Linked DNA regions of Homo sapiens: region 2 is linked to region 1. The links come from fine-mapping of genetic effects on gene expression. Tissue or cell type: whole blood. Region 1 holds a variant in brackets; the other region holds the start of a gene. All regions are shown on one strand. Distances are between the middles of the regions.

Region 1 (2,758 bases):
AATGTCTTTTATATATTAGACACTATTGTACCTAGGTGGGGTAACGATACTAACCAGTTCACCTATAGGGAAATTGCTTAGCTGCAAGTGGCAAAGTGGATCTTCAAAGTTACAGTAAAATTTTGTTCTGCCATACTGTAGTTGCTTGCTAAGCACCACTTTCAGATCATTTCAGGGTTTTGCAAGGGGCTTGACACTAAAGCAGGGGTACTAGATTTTTAGACTGCTTATTTGTAGTACCTATTGGATTGGATTGGATGTAAATCTTAAACTATCATATCTGCATTAGCTTTTTATTTGAGTTGAGAAAGGACGGTAAACTGCAAAACTACATCTTTTATTTTTTTAAACAGGTCATTTCCTCCTTGATTGCTAGAATAACACCTTTTTTTTTTTTTTGAGATGGAGTCTAGCTCTGTCGCCCAGGCTGGAATGCCGTGGTGCAATCTCAGCTCACTGCAATCTCCGCATCCCGGATTCAAGCAGTTCTCCTGCCTTAGCCTCCTGAGTAGCTGGGATTACAGGCACGCTACACCATGCCCAGCTAATTTTTGTATTTTTAGTAGAAATGGGGTTTCACCATGTTGGTCAGGCTTGTCTCAAACTCCTGACCTCGTGATCCACCCGCCTCGGCCTCCCAAAGTGCTGGGATTACAGGCGTGACCACCGTGCCTGGCCAATAACACCTCTTTATTGATAGAAACTGTGGTAAACTAGAAAACTTGAAAAAAAAAATTACCCTAAATCCTTATGTCAGAAAACCAATGCTATTATGTTTGGTATCTGTTATTTTAGCCTTATTATTTAATATTTTACAAAATTGTCATTATTGTGTCCACGTGGTTTTACATTCTGATTTCATACTTTACTGTGTTATTTAGTGTTCTTTTAAATGACATTTTTACTAGGTACATTTAAATCCACCAAACGATACTTTATTTTGACTAGTCTATTATATTTGATATTTCATTTGTATCAGTATTTTGGTGTTTTAAATGAGATTGATTAACATCCTTTACATAAGTTTATCCTTGGAAAAAATTCCTAGTAATGGAGTTTTTCTGGAGCAAATAAAATCAGCACTTAGGCTTCGATACGCATTGTCAGATAAAAGCTGTCATTTGAGACAAAACACCCTGCTCATATATGAATATATTAAATGATCCAAACAAGAATTTTTTGCTTGACATCAGTCTTACTCAGAGGGTGTATGTTTAATTTTTTTTTTTTTTTT[A/TA]GATTCCACACAATTACAGAAAAAAAAAACAGGTCTTGAAATTCCCCCCGTTATTTGGACACTATTAAATGATTTTCTTGGCAACAGATACAGTTCTTGTACCATATATATAAGGAAATTCAGTAAATAATTTGTTGACAGAATGAGTGATCTGTTAAAATAAATTTGTTTTGAGACGGAATTTTGCTTTTGTTGCCCAGGCTGGAGTGCAATGGTGCAATCTTGGCTCACTGCAACCTCTGCCTCCAGGGTTCAAGCGATTCTCCTGCCTCAGCCTCCCAAGTAGCTGGGATTACAGGCCCCCACCACCACGCCTGGCTAATTTTTGTCTTTTTAGTAGAGACGGGGTTTCACCACATTGGCCAGGCTGGTCTCGAACTCCTGACCTCAGGTGATCCACCCGTCTCGGCCTCCCAAAGTGCTGTGATTGTAGGCCTGAGCCACCACGCCTGGCCAAATTTCTTTTTTTGTTTGTTTTTTTTGAGATGGAGTCTAGTTCTATTGCCCAGGCTGGAGTGCAGTGAGCTCTTGGCTCGCTGCAACCTCTGCCTCCTGGGTTCAAGTGATTCTTCTGCCTCAGCCTCCTGAGTAGCTGGGATTACAGGTGTGTGCCGCCACACCTGGCTAATTTTTGTATTTTTAGTAGAGATGGGATTTCACCATGGTGGCCAGACTGATCTCGAACTCTTGACCTTCAGTGATCCACCCCCCTCGGCCTCCCAAAGTGCTGGGATTGCAGGCATGAGTCACTGTGCCTGGCCTATTAAATAAATTAATTTCTCTTCTCTTCTCTTCTCTTCTCTTCCCTCCCCTCCCCTCCCCTCCCCTCCCCTCCCCTCCCCTCCCCTCCCCTCCCCTCCCCTCCCCTCCCCTCCCCTCCCCTCCCCTCCCCTCCCCTCCCCTCCCCTCCCCTCCCCTCCCCTCCCCTCCCCTCCCCTCCCCTCCCCTCCCCTCCCCTCCCCTCCCCTTCCCTTCCCTTCCCTTCTTTTCTTTTCTTTCTGACATAATCTTGCTCTGTCTTCCAGCCTGGAGTGCAGTGGCGCCAAGTTTGCTCACTGCAACCTTCGCCTCCCAGGTTCAAGCAATTCTCGTGCCTCAGCCTCCCTAGTAGCTGGGATTACAGGCACGTGCCACCATACCTGGCTAGTTTTTGTATTTTTGGTAGTGACAGGGTTTTACCATGTTGTCCAGGCTGATCTCGAACTCCTGACCTCCAGTGTTCCACCCACCTTGGCCTCCCAGAGTGCTGGGTTACAGGTGTGAACCACTGCACCTAGCAAATAAATTTCTTAATAACTGCTCTTTGTGGATAAGTCTGTATTTATTTGTGTGATCATCTTTTTGTTTAAATGGCTGCCAAATTATTATGCATTTGGAAGACTAAAGTAATTACCATGTTTTAAAATTAGGTCTAATACAGTGAACAAGAATAATACTAATTGCTGTTTATTGAAAGCTTTCTGTGCAGAGTTAAGTGCTGTACATGTAATTTCTATTTCTCTTATTATGATAGTTGTACAACTT
Region 2 (2,758 bases), 64 kb after region 1:
GCAAGCTCCGCCTCCCGGGTTCATGCCATTCTCCTGCCTCACCCTCCTGGTAGCTGGGACTACAGGCGCCCGCCACCACGCCCGGCTAATTTTTTTGTATTGTTAGTAGAGACGGGGTTTCACCATGTTGGCCAGGATCTCCTGACCTCGTGATCCACCCGCCTCGGCCTCCCAACGTGGTGGGATTACAGGCGTGAGCCACCACGACCGGCCTGATTTCATTCCTATTTTCTAATGGCAGGCTCTAAGCTGGGTGCTGGGACACAGGGGCCAGAGAGGAGAGTAACTGAGGGTAGAGACGTCCAGCCAGCTGTCATCAGCAAATAACCTCTTCTTGCTGGCTCTCAGCTTCCCCACCTAAGAAGTGAAGATATTGACAGACCGACCTTATGGGGTTCCTGAGAAATGATATAACACATGAAAGCGCTGGGCACCTGGCATGTGGTCAGGGTTCCAGAAATGTTTCACTCTCCCCTATCTTGCCCCAAAACACTTGGTTTTGAGCCCCAGTAAATGGGAAACACATTCATTGATTCAGCAAATTTGGATTGAGCATCGATGTCATGCCGAGCTCTGTGCTGGTGCTGGGGACATAGCAGTGAACAAGACAGACACAAAACCCTGCCCCCGCTGGAGCTAACACGCCATTGGAGACTTGGAGAAGTAAGAACAGCATGGGGTATGCCGCTGGGGATGAAGGTGAAGGGGGAAAAGGCACCGTGACCACACAGGGTAGAAAGACCACCAGCGCTAGAGACTGCCACTCAGAGATGTACTTTTCTCGCCATCCTGCACTGGAGGGGGTGGTCCCATTCAACCATGGGGGGTCTGAGTCTCAGAGAACTGGGGGCCTTGCTGGAGGCGCACAGCTGGTGTGGAAGCAGCTGCGCTCAGGTCTGCGTGGCTTTTCCTCTGCAGATCCACAGTGACAGGGCCCAGAAGTGACCACCCCCATGGTCCCCTGGGGAGACCGAGGCCCAGAGAGGGCCGGGCCCTGATCTGAGGTCACACAGCCCCTGGGTGTCCTGGAGGCATGAAAGCCCGTGGTCTTGGATGACCTCTGGCCCACTGGGTGGACTGGCTGAGTGTGTGAGGGTGACGATGGGAGTCCAGGAAGAGACACGTGCGTGGAGCCACAGGGGGAGGCTGTAGATGAAAACGCCCATGCGACCCCTCCGCTCGGCGACTTCAGGGAGCCAGGCCCGGGCCCTGGTATCCCACGCGGGACCCTTCCCTTCTACCTAGCACGGCGGCCGCGGAGGTGCGTCCGGCGGGCTCCGCGACCTCCAGCCCCGGGATCGGCGAGGCCGGCTGCTCACTCAGGTGTCCGGGTGCCCACTCGGCAGCGCGGGGCTCCCTCTGGGTGGGGGCGGGGGCTGGGACTGGGGTCAGAGGGCGCGGAGCCCCGCGGGGGGCGCACTGGGGCCCGCCCCGCCCCGGGCCCCTCCTCCGTTCCGCCCGCGCTGGGGGCGGCCCGGCGGCGGCGGCGGCGGCGCACGCTTCCTGCGGGCGCGGCCGCTGTGGGCGCGGAGCTGCGAGGCGGAGCCGGGCGGCCGAGCCGGGAGCCCGCGAGCCTAGAGCGCGTCGGTCCAGCCGCCGGGCCGCGCCGCCGCCAAGCAGCCGCCCCGCGCGCCGCGCCTCGGGAACAAAGGCGCCCGCCCGCCGCCCGCCGCCCGCGCCCGCGCCGCCGCCATGAAGCCGGGGCCGCCGCACCGTGCCGGGGCCGCCCACGGGGCCGGCGCCGGGGCCGGGGCCGCGGCCGGGCCCGGGGCCCGCGGGCTGCTCCTGCCACCGCTGCTGCTGCTGCTGCTGGCGGGGCGCGCCGCGGGGGTGAGTGACACGCGCCCGGATCCCCGCCACGGCTCCCCGGGGCCGCCCCCCGCGCGGGGTGCCGGTCCCCGCCCGCGACCCCCCCTCCGGGACCCCGCTCCCTCCCCCCCGGCTGCTTCCCCCGGGGCCGCGGTCCCTGCCACCCCTCGACCCTCCCCCGAGCGCCCCTTTCTGCACCCTGCTCCCCCCCCTCCGGAATCTCCCCCTAGCTGGCATCCGCGGGGAGAGGCCGCCCCCGCCGCTGGTCATCTTCGGGGGGCGCATCTCTCCTTCCTTTTGGGACCCCTCCCCAGAGGGAATCCCGGGAGGGAACCCGATCGCGGGTCCTCAGCCCTGTTCCCCCACCTCCCAGTGGCTCCGGGAACTGTCTCCCCGGGGACGAAGCGGGACCCCTGCGCTGGCCTGGGAGGCGCGAGAAGGACCCGGCGGCGGGCTGGGGGTCGCCGTCCCGGCTGGGTGTGTCTTGGGGTGGGAGTGAGCCTGGCTTTTGCCTCGTGGGTGTGCCCAGACCATGGCCACTTTTTGGGAATCGGATCGGTTCCCCTTCCGAGGGGAGGGTGTGCATTTGGTTCTTCCCAGGGTCGCGGCAGCCGGCCAGGGCAGTGGGCCCGGGAAGGGGAGGTGGAGGTGGAGGGTGACTTGGTGAAGGTGACCTGAGGGGGGAGTGAGGGTAACCCTGTGTGTGGGCGTGTGTGGGCGTGTGTGGCCAACTCAGTGAGGGGTGCGGGGACCTGTGGGGCGTGTGCAGGTGAAGGATGTGTCTGCCACATGGGTGGATGCCAGCGTGCCCTCCCGTCCGTGGTCGTGGGAGGGTGACCCATTGTGCATGATGTGTGCCTGTGCCTGGCTGGGCCACTGTTGGCTATGGCCGTGTGTGGCTGCAGTGGGTGAGGGTGTGTGTGTGAAAGACCTCTGGTGGGCGTGTGCT

Evidence for each region. PIP is the estimated chance that this variant, and not a neighbour inherited with it, causes the effect.
Region 2: SDC3 starts here. The variant in region 1 is fine-mapped to the expression of SDC3 in whole blood (INTERVAL, PIP above 0.99).

The regions. Positions count from the first base shown.
Region 1 is chr1:30,971,729-30,974,486 of GRCh38, reverse strand. All of the region lies in intron 10 of PUM1 (pumilio RNA binding family member 1), which reads left to right. Among named protein-coding and RNA genes, the nearest start is that of SNORD103C, 4.9 kb to the right of the region's middle. The variant A/TA (reference allele first, on the strand shown) is at 1,235.
Region 2 is chr1:30,907,521-30,910,278 of GRCh38, reverse strand. It overlaps SDC3 (syndecan 3), which reads left to right and starts at 1,521. Exons shown (of 5, transcript NM_014654.4): 1 at 1,521-1,830. The coding sequence starts at 1,693. RefSeq lists a silencer at 1,477-1,566.